4 separate regions of the Homo sapiens genome follow, and all the other regions are linked to region 3. The links come from fine-mapping of genetic effects on gene expression. A gene starts in region 3. Each other region holds a variant in brackets. All regions are shown on one strand. Distances are between the middles of the regions. Region 1 overlaps AKT1 (AKT serine/threonine kinase 1). Region 2 has its middle 16 kb from the start of CEP170B. Region 3 holds the start of AKT1 (AKT serine/threonine kinase 1). Region 4 has its middle 5.9 kb from the start of VESTAR.

The links. PIP is the estimated chance that this variant, and not a neighbour inherited with it, causes the effect.
Region 1: its variant is fine-mapped to the expression of AKT1 in whole blood (TOPMed, PIP above 0.99). The same link has a PIP of 0.9 or more in blood mononuclear cells, cerebellar hemisphere, cerebellum, lung, testis and thyroid.
Region 2: its variant is fine-mapped to the expression of AKT1 in whole blood (INTERVAL, PIP above 0.99).
Region 4: its variant is fine-mapped to the expression of AKT1 in whole blood (TOPMed, PIP above 0.99).

Annotation. Positions count from the first base shown.
Region 1 is chr14:104,770,679-104,775,779 of GRCh38, reverse strand. AKT1 (AKT serine/threonine kinase 1) reads left to right here. Exons shown (of 15, transcript NM_001382430.1): 6 at 1-128; 7 at 573-704; 8 at 777-842; 9 at 1,800-1,868; 10 at 2,200-2,325; 11 at 2,401-2,529; 12 at 2,688-2,902; 13 at 3,328-3,415; 14 at 4,933-5,035. Among named protein-coding and RNA genes, the nearest start is that of SIVA1, 20 kb to the right of the region's middle. The variant G/A (reference allele first, on the strand shown) is at 2,223.
Region 2 is chr14:104,847,059-104,852,281 of GRCh38, reverse strand. No RefSeq gene overlaps it. Among named protein-coding and RNA genes, the nearest start is that of CEP170B, 16 kb to the left of the region's middle. The variant A/C (reference allele first, on the strand shown) is at 3,052.
Region 3 is chr14:104,793,638-104,798,637 of GRCh38, reverse strand. It overlaps AKT1 (AKT serine/threonine kinase 1), which reads left to right and starts at 2,890. Exons shown (of 15, transcript NM_001382430.1): 1 at 2,890-3,154. RefSeq lists enhancers at 196-968, 969-1,741, 3,783-4,424, 4,425-5,000 and silencers at 2,579-2,938, 3,119-3,168, 3,199-3,518.
Region 4 is chr14:104,824,463-104,829,685 of GRCh38, reverse strand. No RefSeq gene overlaps it. Among named protein-coding and RNA genes, the nearest start is that of VESTAR, 5.9 kb to the right of the region's middle. RefSeq lists enhancers at 1,249-2,034, 2,035-2,820 and a silencer at 2,970-3,139. The variant G/C (reference allele first, on the strand shown) is at 2,083.

The DNA of each region.
Region 1 (5,101 bases), 23 kb after region 3:
TCCAGACTGTGGCTGACGGCCTCAAGAAGCAGGAGGAGGAGGAGATGGACTTCCGGTCGGGCTCACCCAGTGACAACTCAGGGGCTGAAGAGATGGAGGTGTCCCTGGCCAAGCCCAAGCACCGCGTGGTGAGGCCTGTCCCCACTTCTGCCTGTGCCTGGGGCTGCCTTGGACTGTGGAGGGCTGGGTGGGTCATGGGGTCCCAGCTCGGCCCAGGAGACACTCAGCACTCCACGGCATCTCCACCTAGGCCGGTTTTCCATGTAGGGCGCAGCTGCTTCCCAGGTGGGTCCTCTTCCCCATGTCAGAGGAAAACTGGGGTTGCTGAGCCCTGCCAGGCTTGGGCAATGTTACCCCACCCTTCCCTGAACCCCATGCTCTGAGCTGGGGCCGCAGCCATGTGTTCCCTGTAAGCCTGGACTCCCCGCTGAGCCCAGTAGGCCACCAGGTGTGAAGTGGACGCCTCTCCTGGCTCTGCCTCCGACTCTGGGGCCCCTCATGCCACCCCACGCATGCCGACCAGCTGGGCACTGTTGGCAGCGCCGCTTGCTGACCCTGGTGCCTGCCCATAGACCATGAACGAGTTTGAGTACCTGAAGCTGCTGGGCAAGGGCACTTTCGGCAAGGTGATCCTGGTGAAGGAGAAGGCCACAGGCCGCTACTACGCCATGAAGATCCTCAAGAAGGAAGTCATCGTGGCCAAGGTGGGGCCGGGGCGGTGGGGCAGGGTGGAGATGAGGGTGCGGGGTGGCAGCTCACCCAGCCCTGCTTTACAGGACGAGGTGGCCCACACACTCACCGAGAACCGCGTCCTGCAGAACTCCAGGCACCCCTTCCTCACAGTGAGTGGGAGCCCAGATGGGGCTGAAGGGCTGGGGCCAGGTAGCGACTCCTGGGGCTGTCTCTAGGGGACGATGTCCTGTCTTCTTGGGCACGTGAGGGCTTTACACACCGTGGACTCCGCCGCTGGTGAGACAGGCCTGCCCTGGAGGGTCAGGCTGTGGAGGTGCCCAGTGTGGGCTAGGGGCTGTGCTCGCTGCTCCCGTGTGCGGGCAGGTGGGTGGGGCAGGTGGCCCTGGTCTTCCTTGCACTCTGCCGAGGCTCCAGGAGGCCCCAGCTCCCCATGCCCTGCAGCCCTGCCTGCCAGGCTTTTGTTGAGGCCCGGGCTCTGTCCTGCAGAACCTGTTCTGGGGACTTGGCCCAGGAGGTATTTACTGTGAAGGGGGCCAGGGTCCAGCCACTTGGTTAGTTCCAGGTCACTGTGTTTGGGGACGATTCTCCTGCAGATGGGGCCTTTGCTTTAAAAGCACAGTCGCCTGTGGTGGAAGGCGGGAGGGTGGGTCTCGCCTGGGAGGGTGTGTCCTCCCTTTGCGAAGGCCCTGGTGCTGGGAGCACTGTCCCCTGCTGAGGTCCCAACTCACCCTGGAGGACCTGAGCCCAGGCCACCTTGCTCACCTTTCAAACACTCCTTGGCACCTCAGGGGCTGCCGGGGCCCAGCCTGATGGTGGCGTGGCATGAGGCAGTGTGGTGTGGGGCAGTGTGGTGTGGGGCAGCGTGGCATGGGGGCAGTGTGATGTGGGGGTGTATGGTGTGGGGCAGTGTGATGGGGTGTGTGGTGTGGGGCAGTGTGGTATCGGGCGGTGTGGTATCAGGCAGCGTGGTGTCGGGCAGTGTGGTGTGGGGCTACGGGCGGTGTGGTATCAGGCGACGTGGTATCAAGCAGCGTGGTGTCGGGCAGCGTGGTGCGGGGCTGCCGTCCTGCCTGTGGGGCCGCAGTTCCAGCTCCCCTTCCTTGCAGGCCCTGAAGTACTCTTTCCAGACCCACGACCGCCTCTGCTTTGTCATGGAGTACGCCAACGGGGGCGAGGTAGGGGCTGGGGCTGCGGGGGATGGACTTCGCGGCCTGTGGGCCGCCCATGGTGGGGCCGGTCCTTCCCGGAGCCTCGGCTACTCTCCATGGCACCAGACGGTGCTCCCTGCTGGGTGGGTGGTGTGATGCCTGCCCAGGCAGCTGCCTGCTGTGGGGTGACTTGTTCCTGCTGAGTTAGGGCTTCTGAGACTTTCCAGGCCCCCGTGCCCTCTGGTGGCTGGTCCCTTCCCTGTGCAATGCCGAGACCCGGTCTGAGAAACCCCAGCCCTGCAGGCCATGGGGGCAGAGGCCCGAGCCACGGCTGTGCCTCAGGTTGCGCCTCCCGCAGCTGTTCTTCCACCTGTCCCGGGA[G/A]CGTGTGTTCTCCGAGGACCGGGCCCGCTTCTATGGCGCTGAGATTGTGTCAGCCCTGGACTACCTGCACTCGGAGAAGAACGTGGTGTACCGGGACCTCAAGGTGCGCTGGCGGGCAGGCAGGGGGGCAGGGCCCTGGGGGCCTGGCGGCACTGACCTGAGGCCACCTTTCCCCTAGCTGGAGAACCTCATGCTGGACAAGGACGGGCACATTAAGATCACAGACTTCGGGCTGTGCAAGGAGGGGATCAAGGACGGTGCCACCATGAAGACCTTTTGCGGCACACCTGAGTACCTGGCCCCCGAGGTGTGCGCCCCACCTGCGTGCATACGCGTTGCTGCGTCCCCACGTCCTGAGCACACGCAATGCTGTGTCCTCTCTGTGCCCCAAGCACGTCACACCTCCCCCGGCAGTGTCCCGGACACCCCTTGATGCCGAGTCCTGCCCATCTGCCACCCGTGCAGGTGCTGGAGGACAATGACTACGGCCGTGCAGTGGACTGGTGGGGGCTGGGCGTGGTCATGTACGAGATGATGTGCGGTCGCCTGCCCTTCTACAACCAGGACCATGAGAAGCTTTTTGAGCTCATCCTCATGGAGGAGATCCGCTTCCCGCGCACGCTTGGTCCCGAGGCCAAGTCCTTGCTTTCAGGGCTGCTCAAGAAGGACCCCAAGCAGAGGTGAGGGCCGCCCATCCCAGCTACAGGCTACACCTCCATCCCCTCATCCCCAGGCTGCACCTGCCCCTGCGCCAGGCGGTCCTGGCACCTCCCAGACTACACTGATAGCCAAAGCTTGATGTCCTTGGCCAGGGCTGATCTCCAAAGCCTCAGGCCCAAGCAGAGTGGCGGGCAGGCCGGGGTCAGTTGGGCCTCTGTCCCCAACCCTGCAGCCTGCACCCACCCACTCAGGAAGCCCCTGCCCTGCCGTGAGCTCTGTGGTGCTTTGCTACCCACAGCTGCTCAGGGACGCTGCACCACCGGCTCCCCTCCCTGGCCCCGGAACGTCCTGTCTGGCGGGCCCTACATCACAGGAGGAAGGGGCCTGAACCCAGGGCCTGGGCAGGTGGCGGTACCGACACTGTGGCCTTGTTTCCTGCCTGCAGGCTTGGCGGGGGCTCCGAGGACGCCAAGGAGATCATGCAGCATCGCTTCTTTGCCGGTATCGTGTGGCAGCACGTGTACGAGAAGAAGGTGCGGCTGCTCCCCGCATATTCACGCGCACGCATGCTCCCCACATATCCACACTCACGCATGCACGTGGCACGCTCGCCAGATTTCCCACACACTCGCCCTCACCTCAGGAGCCTGCTGCAGTCCTGGTACAAGGAGGGCCTTGCTGCACCAACCTCAGCGCCTGGTGCTCAGAGGCTCTGGCACTGCCGGGTTCCACCAGGAAACTGGCCTGGTCCTCATTTCCTCCTCCCCTCGGAGGTGTGTCACACTCTGAGTTTCCTCCTCCCCTCGGAGGTGTGTCACACTCTGAGTGCCAGCCTTGGGGTTCCCTTCCCTGACGCTGTGCAGTGAAGGCTGGCTGGTGGTGGACCAGGGGTGCTGCCCCTTGGCCTCCACGAGTTCCTCCTGTTTGACCTCAATCCCTTCTGCCGCAAGGAGAGCCCAGCCCTATTTCTGGCTGTGCAGGGACAGGGACAGCACCTACTTTTCTGGCACATGGGGGAGTCCGCCCTGGAGGGAGGCAGCTCTTTCTGCATGAGTCGCCATCCTGGGTGCTCATCTTTCAGGGACCCTAGGAGCCCTGGCCATCACCCCAGCTGATGGGGTCTGCCAGCTGGGTTCGGAAGCCTGCACTCTGAGATGCTGGGTGCCCTGTCACCAGGTGTGCTTCTGCCCCGTTCCCAGCCTGCCCCTCCCCTGAATGCCTGTCCTAGGCTGTGTGCAGCTGGTCGGGCTGGGCAGCCCTGGGACCCAGCTGGGCACCTGTTCTCCCATTAACACAGGGTGCCCTGGTCCTGGTCCCCGTTCCTGCCTTGAGGCCTGCCACCCTCCTGCCCTGCCCTCCAAGGGTATGGGGGGCCTGGGCAGTGCTCAACCTCTGCCCAGCCTTGACCAGAGACCTTGCTAATTGACAATGGACAATGCTGGTGCCCAGCCCAGACTCTGGGGTGGGGCAGTGCTTGAGGGGGTCCTTGACTGTGGGACCTGAGGGGCTCTCTGGCAGCTCCTCACGTGTGCACATCACCTTATAGTCACCCTTCATCCTGGGTCATTGAGAGTCCTGTCTGCAGCCAGATGCCAGCAGGCTGTGGTCCTGTAGTCCCTGAGCCATGGAGGCAGGGTGGGCTCATCCTGTGCACCTTGTTCCACAGTCTCCCTCTTTCCCAATTTACAAGAAGACCAATAAGAAAAATAAGAAAACAAGAAAGAAAAAGGAAAAATAAAGTTATCACCTCCTGGTAGCAGGGAGGGTCTCTCAGAGCTGGGCTGCACTACCTCCTGTCGCCTGCTGGGGCTGCTGTGAGGGCAGCTTTGCGTCTCAGCTGTTGAGGGTTGTCTCCGTGCTCCTGCACCCCTCATGTCCCTCCCTCCCAGAGCTGCCTCTGTGGGGGGCTGGTGGCTTGCTGCTCTCTGACATCAGTCCTGCCTGGAGACCCCTTGGAGATCCAGGTGCTTTGAAGGTCTTGAGCACACTTGAGGGTGTGCTGGGAGTGGGGAGCGAAGCTCATGACTGTCCCGTCTGCCCACCTCTGCAGCTCAGCCCACCCTTCAAGCCCCAGGTCACGTCGGAGACTGACACCAGGTATTTTGATGAGGAGTTCACGGCCCAGATGATCACCATCACACCACCTGACCAAGGTGAGGGGCCACTGCCTGCCCCCGCCCACTCCCTTTTCTCTCCACACTCAGAGAGGCCTGCAGTGT
Region 2 (5,223 bases), 54 kb before region 3:
GGAGCACCCAGCCATCCTTATTCGCTTTACTGCTTTTGGCAGTTTTTCTGTTTGATGTGTTAATTCGTGTACACGCTGCATGCCAGCCGCCACTGATGGCCGCCTTAACGGCGGTGCTGACCACGGCTGCTTTGTCAGCACAGGTGAAGCTGTTGAAACGCCTCTCAGAGGGGCCTCTGGTGGCACTGCCCATCTCTTCCCTCAGCCTCTCCTGAGTGAGGCCTGCTGCGGGGTTTCCGAGAGTTCCCTCAGGAAGCGGCAGAAGGGAGCAGATGCCCGAGGTCAGGTGCCTGAGAGACGGTAGCATTTGGACAGCCCAGTAGCCTTTCCCATGGTCACGCAAATTCTCCTGAAACTCAGGCAGGGTCTGAAGAAACACAAGATGGCACAAAGCCATCCCCAGAGCCGTGGGTCCCACGTGGTTAAATGTGGAAAACACTCGCTGAGGGTCATAGTGGAAAACAGCGGCTGGAGATGGGGTCTTCCTGTTGGCTGCCGAGACGGTGACATCTACAGGTGTTGAGTGGCTAAAAAAATGTATTCCTTGCAATGCCTCACAGACATGGTAACGTATGCACATATGCGTAGTGGCCTGCCAGGGCTGGTAAGATAACATCCCTTCTATATTCAGGGAGATGAAATCTGATCTTTTTTTTTTTTTTTTTTTTTTTGAGACAGAGTCTTGCTCTGTCACCCAGGCTGGAGTGCAGTGGCGTGATCTTGGCTCACTGCAACCTTCGCCTCCCAGGTTCAAGCGATTCTCCTGCCTCAGCCTCCTGAGTACCTGGGACTACAGGTGCCCACCACCACGCCTGGCTAATTTTTTGCATCTTTAGTAGAAACAAGGTTTCACTGTGTTGCCCAGACTGGTCTCAAACTCCTGAGCTCAGGCAATCCACCCGCCTCAGCCTCCCAAAGTGCTAGGATTACAGGTGCCAGCCACCGCGCCTGGCCAGAATCTGATCTTTTGATGGATAGTTGCAGAAAAGTCTTCTGCTATATTCCTAATCAAAGTCTTCTTAGAATATTGAAATATCACCTTTTTAGTAAGCGAAATGCCTTTTCATTTTATCCAAAACAACACAGATAGAACTATTTGTTTCATGTGTCAGATTTTATATTCCTTTCATATCACTACATTTCCCCTTGTGTTTTTTCACTCATGCACATGCAGTCTTTGTACTTTTTTTTTTTTTTTTTTGAGATGGAGTTTCATTCTTGTTGTCCAGGCAGGAGTGCAATGGCATGATCTTGGTTCACTGCAACTTCCGCCTCCCAGGTTCAAGTGATTCTCCTGCCTCAGCCTCCCGAGTAGCTGAGATTACAGGCGTGCACCACCACGCCCGGCTAATTTTGTATATTTAGTAGAGATGGGGTTTTCAAGTTGGCCAGGCTGGTCTCCAACTCCTGACCTCAGGTGATCCACCTGCCTCTGCCTCCCAAAGTGCTGGGATTACAGGTGTGAGCCACCACACCTGGCCTGTGCCTGGCTAATTTTAAAGTTTTTTTGTAGAGATGAGGTCTTGCTATGTTACCCAGGCTGGTCTTGAACTCCTGACCTCAATAGATCCTCCTGCCTTAGCCCACAAAGTGCTGAAATTACAGGTGTGAGCCACCATGCCTGGCCCTAATTTTAATAATTTCTTATATCAATCAAATCATCCAGTAGATCATTCTTCCTGTCTACCAGGCAAATCTATAAGTACTCATTATCATTTATTAGGCCATTTAATTCTTTTTTTTTTTTTTTTGAAACGGAGTTTCTTTCTTGTTGCCTAGGCTGGAGTACAATGGCGTGATCTTGGCTCACTGTAACCTCCACCTCCCAGGTCCAAGCGATTCTCCTGCCTCAGCTTCCCAAGTAGCTGGGATTACGGGCATGCACCACAACACCTGGCTAATTTTGTATTTTTAGTAGAGACGGGGTTTCTCCGTGTTGGTCAGGCTGGTCTCGAACTCCTGACCTCAGGTGATCTGCCTGCCTCGGCCTCCCAAAGTGCTCGGAGCACAGGCGTGAGCCACCGCGCCCGGCCCCATTTAATTCTTTATAGTAATCAGGAACCTCTATGCTCTCAAAAATAAAGCTTCCCACAAAGCAAAAACACCTACTTGTGGCTGTGGTAAATAACAAGTATCAGACACCAAAAGCAACTCTAAAAACTAGTTTAAAAACAACAACAGGCCGGGCACGGTGGCTCACGCCTGTAATCCCAGCACTTTGGGAGGCTGAGGCGGGTGGATCACGAGGTCAGGAGTTCAAGACCAGCATGACCAACATGGTGGAACCCCGTCTCTACTAAAAATACAAAAAATTAGCCAGGCGTGGTGGCAGGTGCCTGTACTCCCAGGTACTTGGGAGGCTGAGGCGGGAAAACGGTGTGAACCCAGGAGGTGGAGCTTGCATTGAGCCGAGATCGAGCCATTGCATTCCAGCCTGGGCGACAGAGCAAGACTCTGTCTCAAAACAACAGCAACAACATAACAGCTGTTTGAAGGCATTGGAGAGCAACCAAGGCAGCCAGGACTTGAGGGACTGAGAACCTGAGAAAAGGGAATCACATTGAGATGAGCCTGGCAGGTACTTAGAGACCAAGCAGAAAGTGGCAGCTCAGAGCTTCTGGGATTCTCACAGGCCTGGGGAGGCAAATATTGGCATTGGAAGCTACCATTCAATCTTCTGTGCCTCTTTTCCCATTAAGATATTTGCCAATCTCTAAGCTGTTTTGGGTAGGAGGTTACAAAGTCAAGCAGAAAATGGCAGCTGAAAGCCCATGAAATTAAAGCTTTAGCTGTCTGATGGTGTTATGGAGAAAGGAATTGGAGTCCAGGCATCAAGGAGAAGGGACCCTGTAAAAACACTCAGCCTTTCAGGTAAGGTCCTTGGAATGTGACACTCCAGCAAGCTAGAAACCAAATAAACCTTCCCACCCCTACTCAATTTCTCACACACGGGCCAGGCACAGTGGCTCATGCCTGTAATCTCAGTACTTAGGGAGGCCGAGGTGGGAGGATCGCTTGAGTCTAGGAGCTTGAGACAAGCCTGGGAGACAT[A/C]GTGAGACCCCGAGACCTCATCTCATTTTTAATCTTTTTTTTTTCTTTTTTTTTTTTTTGAGACAGGATCTCACTCTGTCACCCAGGCTGGAGTGCAGTGGCACAATCAACTCCTGACCTCAAATGATCCAACTGCCTTGGCCTCCCAAAGTGCTAGGATTACAGGCATGAGCCACCATACCTGGCTGTGAGACCTCATCTCTACAGAAAATAATAAAATTAGTGGGATGTGGTGGTGTGCAGCTGTAGTCCCAGCTACTCTGGAGGCTGAGTCGGGGGATCCCTTGAGCCAGGCAGTTCAAGGCTGCAGTGAACTATGTATGACTGTGCCACTGCACTCCAGCCTGGGCCACACAATGAGACTGTAAAGAACTGGAGGCTCTAACCACACGTGGCTACTGCACTAGTAGCTGGTGCCTAAAACTTGGATTTTTAGGCCGGGTGTGGTGGCTCACACCTGTAATCCCAGCACTTTGGGAGGCCGAGGCGGGCGGATCACAAGGTGAGGAGATCAAGACCATCTTGGCTAACACGGTGAAACCCCATCTCTACTAAAAATACAAAAAAATTAGCCAGGCGTGGTGGTGGGTGCTTGTAGTCCCAGCTACTCAGGAGGCTGAGGCAGAAGAATGGCGTGAACCCGGGAGGCGGAGCTTGCAGTGAGCCGAGATGGAGCCACTGCACTCCAGCCTGGGCGACAGACAGAGCGAGACTCCGTCTCAAAAAAAAAAAAAAAAAAAAAGGAAGCTGTCAGTAGCCAGAAGTTAAGAAATGGAGTCCAACTCCTCAATACAAACTACCAGCTTACAGGGAATGCAGAGGCACAGATGCATGTTAAACAGTAGCAGGGGGCACAGCTGGCAAAATCCAGGCTGGTGAGCTACAGGGGAACAGCCTGGTTTCCTTTGCTAGAGGGGAAGAAAGGACGAATAAGAAAAGTGTGGATTAAGAAGACCTGACTTATCAACCAGTCACAAAGTGGCAAAACTGGGTTCCAATTCAAACAAACGTTTACAAAACAATTGGAAAAGTGAACATTGACTTGATATTTAGTAATATTGGCCGGGCGTGGTGGCTTGTGCCTCTAATCCCAACACTTTGGGAGGCCGTGGCAGGCAGATCATGAGGTCAAGAGATTGAGACCATCCTGGCCAACGTGTTGAAACCCCGTCTCTACTAAAAATACAAAACATTAGCTGGGTGTGGTGGCGGGCACCTGTAGTCCCAGCTACTCGGGCGGCTGAGGCAGGAGAATCACTTGAACCCGGGAGGCGGAGGTTGCAGTGACGATAAAACCATTTCACAATTATAAAAGGGTCAATTGAATAGGAAGATCTAACAATCATAAATCTGTAGACACCTAATAACACAGCGCTGAAACATAGAAAACAAAATCTGATAGAACTAAAAAAGTAGCAGCAAATCCACAACTACTGTGGGAAATTTTAAAACATCTCTCTCGGTAACTGATAGACTAAATGGACAAAATACCGGTAGAGATACAATATATTTAAACCACAAGTTGTTGTTGTTGTTGTTGTTGTTTTTGAGCCGGAGTCTTGCTCTGTCACCCAGGCTGGAGTGCAGTGGCACCATCTCGGCTCCCTGCAAGCTCCGCCTCCCGGGTTCACGCCATTCTCCTACCTCAGCCTCCCCAGTAGCTGGGACTACAGGCGCCCGCCACCATGTCCAGGTAATTTTTTGTATTTTTAGTAGAGACGGGGTTTCACCGCATTAGCCAGGATGGTCTCGATCTCCTGATCTCGTGATCTGCCCACCTCGGCCTCCCAAAGGGCTGGGATTACAGGCGTGAGCCACCGCGCCTGGCCCTCTTTTTTTTTGAAACAGAGTCTCGTTCTGTCACCCAGGCTGGAGTGCAGTGGGGTGAGATCTCAGCTCACTGCAACCTCCATCTCCTGAGTTCAAGAGATTCTCGTGCCTCAGCCTCCTGAGTAGCTGTAATTACAGGCACCCACCACCACACCTGGCTAATTTTTGTATTTTTATTAGAGATGGGGTTTTGCCATGTTGGCCAGGCTGGTCTTGAACTCCTGACCTCAAGTGATCCTCCCAAAATGCTAAGATTACAGGTGTGAGCCCCCGCTTCTGGCCCTGGTTTTTCTTTTTCTCTCTCTCTCTCTCTTTCTTTCTTTCTTTCTTTTTTTTTTTTTA
Region 3 (5,000 bases):
CATACCCTCCTTTCCAGCCCATTCCGGGTGTCCTGTGATTGTGGGATATTCCAGCACCTTCTGAAAGGGAAGGGGCTGTTTGGTCACTTGGTGCTTAAAAGTTGGCAGGACGCAAGTGGGTGTTCAGTAAATGTTTGTTGAGTGAATGTGTGACGGTTGCTTCTGTGAGTGATTACGATGGTCCCACCATCCCTAATCCTGACTCCTCTGTGGCAACATTCCAGCCCTGCCTGCCCACACCCCCAGCCCCTGAACCTTCAGAGCAAGTAGGGGTGGCCTGCCACACTGGGGCTCTGGGCAACAGGCTGACAGCTCCCCACTGCAGGCTGGGAGCAAGCACCCTAGCCTGCCCTGCCTGGCTGGCGGGACAGAGAGAGCCTGGACACTTAATGGGGGTTGTGGTACACAGGGAGGGTCAGGATGCTGCCTTCAGGAGCCTAGGGTAGGACCTGGAAGGAGGGCCCAGCTAGGAATGGGCTAGATGAAGGGGAGGGGACAGTGGGAGAGAAGCTCCTTATCCCTCTCAGGTCGGGATGTCTGGGTTCAAGTCCCTCCTGCCCCACACCGATCAGGGAAGGGGGGCTGTTCCAGGCAGAGACCGCCCAGAGTTGGTGCTGGGATCCTGGCCAGCCTGTAGTCCTCAGAGCCCCTGTGACTGGCTGGGTCTCAAGTGCAGGAATGACAGGACACCGTCACACAGCCACTGTCGCGGCGGTGGTGGTTCAGGCAGAACCTCTGCAGACTCAGGCGGCCATCTGGCCTGGGAGCTGCCCTGAGGCCCCGCCCTGCAGCTGCTGCTGGGACCTACACAGCCCAGGGCCCTCGAGTCCTGCCCCCGGCCAGCAGCTGCAGAAGGTGACAGGGCAGGAGGCCCCTGAGCTCTGGGAGGAGGCAGCCGTCGGGCCCTTCCCTGGTGCAGCAGTTTTTGTCGGAAACATCTGGCCACAGAGCACCTCAGCAGTCCCAGCAGCAGCCGTGGGGCTGGGTTCTCTCCTGACCATTCTGTCTGGGGTGGGAGGGGGTGTTCTTGAAGAGAGGACTCTGCTTTCCCTCTGGGACGCTGGAGGAGAGGGAGATGGCCCTGCCCACTGGGAGATCCCCGTCTTGGGGGAGGGCAGTTCATGCCAAGGTGAAGACAGGACTGGAGTGTGGGGCCCACAGTGGGTTGCAGGCACCAGCAGATGCCAGGGCACCAGGCTGGGAAGACTGGGAGGCCTCCTTGGAGACAGCCAGTGCAAAATAAGCAAGAGGTCCAACCACTTCAAGAACAGCCCGCAATGTCACTGCCTCTTCCATGAGAGGGTGCCCTGCTCCCTCCCACATCCCCAAGCCTCGGCCACTTGCTGGCCTTGTCTCATGGCCCTCTTACCCTCTGCTTCCTCCCTGAATTCCTTCCTCCATCCTTGCATGGCAGAGCCCAGGATGGTGGACAGATACCAGGAACTCTTCCTCGGGGAGCAGTGGGCAGGTGGGACAGTCCCAGAGGGAGCCCCAGGTGGCTCATGGTGCAGGTTTGCTGGGTGAGAGACAGACACCAGACGCCCAGGCTCTGGGGGCAACCCTTGTGTCAGGTATCCCACCCAAGCGGCGCAGACCACTGGGCCTCTGACTTGGCCCCCTGGAGGTGGGCCCTTCCTGGGGTTACAAAGTCTGAGCTGGGAGGGAGCAGAGGTGCTCAGGCGAGAGGCAGGAATGGGGAGTCCCCTGTCTGAGGAGCGAGTGCCCTCATGCAGGGGGAGAGAGTCCTTCTCTTGGTCAGCCCCAAGAGGCAGGGATGAAGCCCGAGTTTTGGCTGCAGACTCTGTCCTGAGCACTGGGCCGAACCTGCTGCCTCTGTCTGCATCTCCTCCCACCCCCTCCCCTGCTGCCAGCTGAACTCACTCTGGCTGAAAATAAAAATGCTCCCCCAACCCCAATACTTAGCAGCCTCAGGAAGGTAACTCACAAGAGTCTGTCTTTCACAAAAGGGTTATTATCAACTGTGGGCCTCTGGAATGGGGGAGGGGCAGTTGTCGGAGGAACTTCTGGCTAGGAAGGGGTCGGGGTGGCAGTCACCTGCACTCTCCTGTGAGTGTCCAGGAGAAAGGGGTCTGTGTCCCACTTACTCATTCCATACCCGGGCCATCTGCCTCCCAGTGGACTTCGGACTGGGTGTCCGGGCTGACCAAGTCCACCCAGCAGGGAGGGCTCTGGGCTGTCAGCTGTCACAGCCCACCCTAGACACCGCTCCTCCTCTGTCTGGTGTCTGCTCCCAGCTCAAGGTGGGAGCCAGGCAAGGTGTGCCCCTCTTCTCCCACTCCCCAGCAAAGTCCCCCTTTTGTGAGTGTAGCTGCCAGTACCTAGGTGAATGGTTGACTCCCCTCGGAGCCTTCCTGCTCCTTGGAGGCCCACCTCCAACTGACCTCCTGTCCTGGCATCCTCCCGCACTTCCCCCAGAGGCACAAGGTCTTGGGATTGGGCCTTTTAGGTCACTCTTGGCCGCCCCCTCCACGCCCCCCAGAGTGGGGCAGCCTGAAAGTCAACCTAAGCCACCCCCGCCCCGCGCGCGGAGGCAGAAGTCCGGGATTCGTCCCTGACCTGTCTCGGGCCCCTTCTGCTAGGGTCACGGCAGAGCGAGCCCAGAAGCGCCGGGTCACTTTACAGACGGGGAAACTGAGGCCAGAGAGGGCGTGGCCCCGGGACGGGCTGGCTGGTGGCCGGGCTCCGTTAGCGGCCCAGCCCAGGCCCCAGGTCGTCGGGAGCTGCCCCTCAGCCCGGCCGCGCGCTCCCCGAGCGCGCTCCGCCCTCGCCGCCGGCCGCGCGGTGGGGACGCCCCGGGCGGCGGAGGCGGATGTGGGCGGGCGGCTCCGGGCGCGGGGCGGGCGCGGGGCGGGGAGAGGGCGGGCCGGCGGCGGCGGCAGGACCGAGCGCGGCAGGCGGCTGGCCCAGCGCACGCAGCGCGGCCCGAAGACGGGAGCAGGCGGCCGAGCACCGAGCGCTGGGCACCGGGCACCGAGCGGCGGCGGCACGCGAGGCCCGGCCCCGAGCAGCGCCCCCGCCCGCCGCGGCCTCCAGCCCGGCCCCGCCCAGCGCCGGCCCGCGGGGATGCGGAGCGGCGGGCGCCGGAGGCCGCGGCCCGGCTAGGCCCGCGCTCGCGCCCGGACGCGGCGGCCCGGTGAGTCCCCGCCCGCCGTGGCCGCCCGGGCCTGGATTTCCTCCCCGCGGGCCGGGCCGCTTTGTTCGCGGCCGGTCGGGCCGGGGCGCGAGCCGCGGCGCCGCCAGAATGGAGGAGCGGGAGCAGGAAGTGGCCGAGCGGGCCTGGGCGGGGAGGGCGCGGGGCGCGCGGGCCCGGCCAAGGGAGGGCGGCCCCACGCCGGGCGCCGGGGGTGCAGGCTGCCGGCCCCAGCCTCCCTCATGACCTTGGGGAGGCCGCTCCGCCGGGCGAGGCCGGGACCCGAGAGAAGGGACGCCGCCGGGCCTGGAGCTGGGGCTCGGGGTGCCCCTGCGGGCCGTGGGGCTCCCCGGGCGCTGGGCCAGCGAGGCAGCCGGCGGAGGTGCCCCGGGGTTGGAGAAAGACTCGCCGCGGCCGGCCTTCAAGTTTGTGGGAGGGCCCCGGAAGGAGACTTCGTTTCCCACGGACGAAAAGTTGTACGTGGTGGCGGGGTACCCAGGCTAGCCACAAAGGACTGTGACCCTCCTGGGCCCCGGAACTGCTTCCTGTCTTGGGTGGGCCCTGGAGGTCCTGCCCGCCCATCCCAGAGGCCAAGGCTTGGAGGGCAGCTGGGGCTTGCCCCTTAGATTGAGTATCCTGGGGCGCTAGCGAGCTTGGTCCTGTCGGGACGGCCTCTGAGTGCTGCCTTGGTCAGCGGGTGAGCTTGGGCCCCTGCTCTGCAGCCAGAGGCCGCCCCACATTCACTCCTGGGTCTCTCGGCCTTGCTCCAGGTGGCCACTTCTTGACTGCTTTGAGTCCCTCATCCGAGCGAAGGGCGGACGGAGTCCGTTGGTGGGGGTCCGGTTGCCTCTCCCGGGAGCTGTGTAGACTTCTCATACACCAGGGTTCTGGAGGCAGATGGAGGAGCCCTTTCGAAAACAGAGTATTTTTTTTTAAGTTGTGACTTAATAATAGTAGCAAGAATATGTGCTTATGGTAAAGGCAGGCGGCAGGTACGGAGGCTGTGGGAAGTCGGGGTCCCTCCGCCCCCACAGGCAGCCCTGTGCTGGCCTGGTGTATACGTTTCTGTGCAGACGTACACCACCCTGTGTGAGCACAGATGTATTTTTACACATGGCTCTGGACAGCTGTCTGACTCTGTCAGCAGCAGGCCTTGGAGGGGCTCAGGCCCGTGTGGGGGTGGGGGGACATCCAGAGGTCTTTGAGTCCAGCCCTCTGCCTCCAGGCCACGCCCACTCAGTGTCGTCAGAGCCCCCTGTGCCTGAGGCGTGCGCGGCTCGGAGCCCTGCCCTCGGAGTCCTGCGGTGCCTTCCTCGAGTCTGGCCTGCTTTCCATCCTGCTAAGTACTTGGGGCATTTCCCTCTTTGGGTAAGGTGTGGTCTTCCCTGTCCTGGCATTAGACACAAGGCAGTGGGCCTTCCTGCCATTCTAAGTGTAGCTTAAGACAATCAGTGCAAAGCAACCCTTTGTGGGTGTCCAGCCCTTGCCTCGGGAGGCCAGAAAGGTGGCCTGGGGGGAGAGCGTCTAAGCTGGCTGTGGAAAGACCCATGTTGGGATCCATTCCACAGAGGTCGTCAGGGGTCTCTGCCTGGCCTGGAGGTCCCAGAGAGGACCCTCCTCCCCTCAGGAAGGCCCATCTGGAAGGGTAGCAGAGGACTGCTCACAGGAAGAGCATGCGAAGTGCTCTTTCTGGGGATGCCTGTAGTTGGTGATGTGGGAACTGGGTTTTGAGGGATGCCTAGGAGTTCATCCATCAGAGGGGAAATGAGGAAGCCATGCAGGATCAATGGATAAAGTGTGCTCAGGTGAGGGTTGGCTGGTGGGCCGCTGCAGGGCGGGGGCCTGTCCA
Region 4 (5,223 bases), 31 kb before region 3:
TCTCAATCTTAAAAGTTTTTAAAAAGAGAATGAAAGAAGAGGAATTAGAGGCATGGCATGTAGACAGCATTCTGTGGGCGTCTTGCAGTAAAGATCTATGCCTTTCTTTTCTTTTCTTTTCTTTTTTTTTAATTGAGACAAGGTCTTGCTGTGTCACCCAGGCTAGAGTGCAGTGATATCATCATGGCCCGGACTCCCAGGCCCAACCCAAGGGATCCTCCCACTGTAGCCTCCCCAGTGGCTGGGACTACAGGCCCATGCCACCATGCCTGGCTGATTTTCCCTTAATTTTTTTGTTGTTGTTTTTAAAGAAATGAGGTGTCACTATGTTGCCCAGGCTGGTCTCCATCTCAAATAAATAAATAAAATACCACAGACTGAGTAATTTATAAATACTAAAAATGTATTCCTCACAGTTTTAGGGGCGGGGAAGTCCTAGGTCAAGGCCAGCAGATGTGGTGTCTGGGAGGGATTACACCCTCTTGCTGTGCCCTCACATAGAGGAAGGGGCCAAAAGGCCTAAAGAAAAGAACCCGCTGCCTCAAGCCCTTGTGTAAGAGCACTAATCCCGTCCGCCCTGCCCTGGTCACCTCCCAAAGGCCCTACCTCTTAATACCATCACTTTGCAACTTAAGTTCCAATATATGAATTTTGGATGGACACAAACATTCAAACCATAGCACACACAAAATAAGCTTAAATATTTTATTTTTTGAGACAGGGTCTTGTTTTGTCACCCAGGCTGGAGTGCAGTGGCCCCATCTCAGCTCACTGCAACCTCTGCCTCCTGGGCTCAAGCAATCCACTCACCATGGCCTCCCAAAGTGCTGGGACTACAGGCGTGAGCCACTGCACCTGGTCTTTTAAAATTTTTTTTTTTTTTTTGAGATGGAGTCTCCCTCTGTCGCCCAGGCTGGAGTGCAGTGGCGCGATCTCAGCTCACTGCAAGCTCTGCCTCCCAGGGTCATGCCATTCTCCTGCCTCAGCCTCCCGAGTAGCTGGGACCACAGGCACCCGCTACCACGCCTGGCTAATTTTTTGAATTTTTAGTAGAGACGGGGTTTCACGTGTTAGCCAGGATGGTCACAATCTCCTGACCTCGTGATCCGCCTGCCTTGGCCTCCCAAAGTGCTGGGATTACAGGCGTGAGGCTGAGGCAGGAGAAAGGTGTGAACCCGGGAGACGGAGCCTGCAGTGAGCCAAGATCGTGTCACTGCACTCCAGCCTGGGCGACACAGCGAGACTCTGTCTCAAAAAAAAAAAAAAAAAGAGTGACCACTGGTCGTCCTCACTGCTACACTCCCACCAGCACCATGAGAGTTTACAAATGCCATGGCAACATCAGGAAGTTACCCCTTATGGTCTAAAAAGGAGAGTCATGAATAATACACCCTTTGTTTATCATATAATAAAAATAAAACCATAAAAATGGTCACCCAGCAGCCCTCTGGCCCGCTCTATGGAGTGGCCATTCTTTTATTCCTCTAATTTCTTAATAAATTTGCTTTCGCTTTACTTTGTGGACTCGCCCTGAATTCTTTCTTGCGTGAGATCTAAGAACCCTCTCTTGGGATCTGGATCAGGACCCCTTTCTGGTAACCCCATGAACCACAGACTCACTCTCAGCCCTGGATCCCCATGCCTCTGCCACTGAGGCCTGAGGGACCACCTCTCCCGCCCCTGCCCTGAGCACTCTGGTGTCTCCGGCCAGCCCTTTCTCTCCAAGCCAGGCTCCTCCCACCCTCCCTGCCTTCTCCAGCCGTGTACCAGACACGAACCTGTGGAAGGAGAGCCCGCAGCTCCTGGGGCACCTGCATTCAGCCCAGCCCCTCCTCCCTGCCCCGTCCCTGGCCTCCCCCAGCCCCTGGCGGCTTCTTCTCTGCGGCCTCCTCCTAGTGGCTGGCTGAGCAAAGGACAGGAGGTACTTAGCCTTATCATCTGCCCTGCCCCTCCAGGACTGCAGGCGCCAAGCCCCCTGCACGCCCCTACTTCCCCGATGGGACCTCCCTGCTCCCAGCCAGTCAGCCTCCCAGGGAAGCTTAAGGCTGCTGCCTGGCTCCAGGGCGACGGCTGTTGGTGCTG[G/C]GGCCCAAGACGCAGGAGAGATTCAGACAGCACTTGGGGCCACACAAGACAGTGCCTGGGACGTGTGAAGCACCGCCCTCCCCTGGACGTGAGTCCACCCCAGGGCTTCAACGCCAGCCTGTGCCCACCTCACGCAGGCCTTTCTCCGCGGCTCAGGTGCTTCCTCCCCCCCACCGAAGCGCTGGTGCTAAGGTCACCGCCCTGCCCCACCGTCACTGTTCACTGATACCAGTCCTGGGCGCCCTCCTCGCAGCCCCTGCCCCACTCCACACCGGATCGACCACCAAGGCCTCTGCCTCCTACGCATCCCCAACGCCTTTTCCTTCCTTCCCGCGGACCTGCGGGGCGGGGGCGGGCCTGGCGTTTTTGAGCTGGACCCGAGCAGCCTCCCGGTGACTCCCCTGCTGTTGCCACCTCCTCATTCTCCACTCAAGAGACAAAGCGACCTCCCCGAATGCAAACCCGACCAGCCGCACTCCTTAAAATCCTTCGACGCTTCCCATTTCTCCCAGGGAAAAACTCCCCCACTCCTCCCCACCTGTGTCCGCGGCCCCTGCAGGACTGAGAGTCCGAGGTCTCCGCGCCGTCACCTCCCCCGACGCCCTTCCAGCTTCCCTGGGAGCCCGGGGCCATCCTCCGAGCCCACCCGCCCCCTCACCCCCGCAGACCCCCCTGCAGACCCTAGCAGTCCCCTGCGGCCCGTCTCGCCTTGCGGACGAAGCCGGGGCGCCCGAGGTCTCCGCCCTCTGAGCTTGCGTCCCCATCCCCAGGGGCCCCCAGCACAGTTCCTGGGGCAGGGCTGGAGCTCATCAGCCCCGGGACGGAAGGTTAGATTCCCAGGATCCACCGTGTCCAAGGGTTGCATTCCCACTCGAGCCCCGCCCCTCCGGCAGCCCCGCCCCCTCCGGCAGCCCCGCCCCCTCCGGCAGCCCCGCCCCTCCGGCAGCCCCGCCCCTCCGGCAACCCCGAAAAGCAGAGCGCGGCGGGAGCCATTGCGAAGTTTGCCGCCAGGGGGCGCGCGGGGAGCGGGGCGCAGGGCTGGCGGGGAGTGCGGAGCCGGGCGCGGGGAGAGGGCGGGACGGGTGCTCCTCCCGGATGCCCAGGGCGCCCAGCGCCGCGGGAAAGGCGCCTCCCCAGCAGGACGCCAGGCTCTGGGGCTAGCGCTCCTCGCCGCAGAGAGCTTGGGGCTGGCCACGGGTGGCCTGAGGATGACTTGGGACCGCCCCCCGCTCCAACGCCAGCTGTCGCAGTCTGCTCCGCTTCCCAGAAGGACCAGACCTTTCGCTTAGGGATTTCATTTTGGGAACTCCCTTTAAAGCGCTTCATTCATGCCGCAGTGCCTTGAGGGCGAGGATTGGCCACACCCTCCTAGGGACAGTGCTCACCCCGGCCTGAGCTTAAGAACAGGAGTTCCCCAGCCTCGTCAGACGCCCCACCTAGCCCTCCCAGCCCACCCCCCGCATATCCCCCTGCTCTGTGGTCTTGCACTGCCGCAGCGCTCCCACCACCGCCTTGCCCGTGTGCCCTCCAACCAGCGCCAGGGGTTGCGGTCAGAGCTCAAGCCCGATCTGGTCTCTCCGGGGATCAAACCTTCCTGCAGCTCCCATCGCACTCGGAGTGAACATCCAAGACCCCAGGAGAGCTCCATAAGGCCTCCACACCTTCCTCTCCCTCTGGCTCCCCTCCCTGCCGGTGCTCCGGGATCTCCTGCCACTTCGCTACGCCCCAGCACGCCCCAAGCCCCACATCAGGCTTCTGCTCCTGCCAGTCCCTCCGCCCCAGCCATTTCCTGCCTCTGCTCAAATATTCCCAGTCAGCGAGGCCATCTCCGCCAATCCTCAGACTGCCGGTATCTGTCATTCCGATTCTTTTCTTTCCTTAAGAGACGGAGTCTGACTCTGTCGCCCAGGCTGGAGTGCAGTGGCACCATCTCGGCTCACTGCAAGCTCCGCCTCCCGGGTCCCGCCATTCTCCTGCCTCAGCCTCCTGAGTAGCTGGGACTACAAGCACCCACCACCACGCCTGGCTAATTTTTTTGTATTTTTAGTAGAGATGGGGTTTCACCGTGATAGCCAGGACGGTCTCTATCTCCTGACCTCGTAATCTGCCCGCCTTGGCCTCCCAAAGTGCTGGGATTACAGGCGTGAGCCACCGTGCCCGGCCCGATTCTTTACTTTTCTATTGGCTTTTAAGCTGGGGAACCTGCCACCTGCCTTCATGAATCCCACCCAGAAGAGTCTTGGGGACTTCTAGAATCATCTGGAGTCCACAAATAACCATCTCCATCAGACACCAGAAATCCTGCAGAGTGCACCTCCACCCAGTTCCTTGTCTGTGCCTCTGCATCTCTGTCCTCACAGTGGCCCCTATCCCTAAAACCAGCCCAGGTCAAAGCCTCTCCAGTCTTGACTTCTCATCCACAGGACAGGCCCACAGACCCCTGTGATCAAGATTTCCAAACCTCCCAGAGTTTGCTCAGGTAGCAACCCTGGGGGATCCTCCATCCATCCAATTATCTTCCTAGCCAACCATCTTTAAACATCCATCTTTCCACCACCTATGCATCTGTCCTTAACCCCATCATACCATCTATTCAACCATCTGTCCAACCATCCATCCATCCACCCAACCAACCATCCATCAATCCATCCAACCATTCAACTGTCCATCCAACCTATCATCTACCAACCATCTATCCATCCATCAGTCCACCATCAATCCATCCATCCAATCATCCCTATCCATCCAACCATTCACCTATCCTACCATCCATCCATCAATTCATCCAACCATTCACCATCCAACCATACATCCACCCACCCAACCATGCAACCATCCACCAGCCTACGATCCATCCAAACATTCATCCAACCATCCACCATCTTACCATCCATCCATTAATCTATCCATCCAACCATTCACCATTCTACTACCCATCTAACCATTTACCTAAACATCTACCATCCTACCACCCATCTATCCATCCACCATTCTATCATCCAGCCAATATGCATTCATCTAACCCTCCATCCATCCATCCATCCATCAATCCATCCATCCAACCACCCACCATCCTACTGTCCATCCAACCATTTATCTACCCATCTACCACCCCACTGTTCATCCATCCATCCAACATCC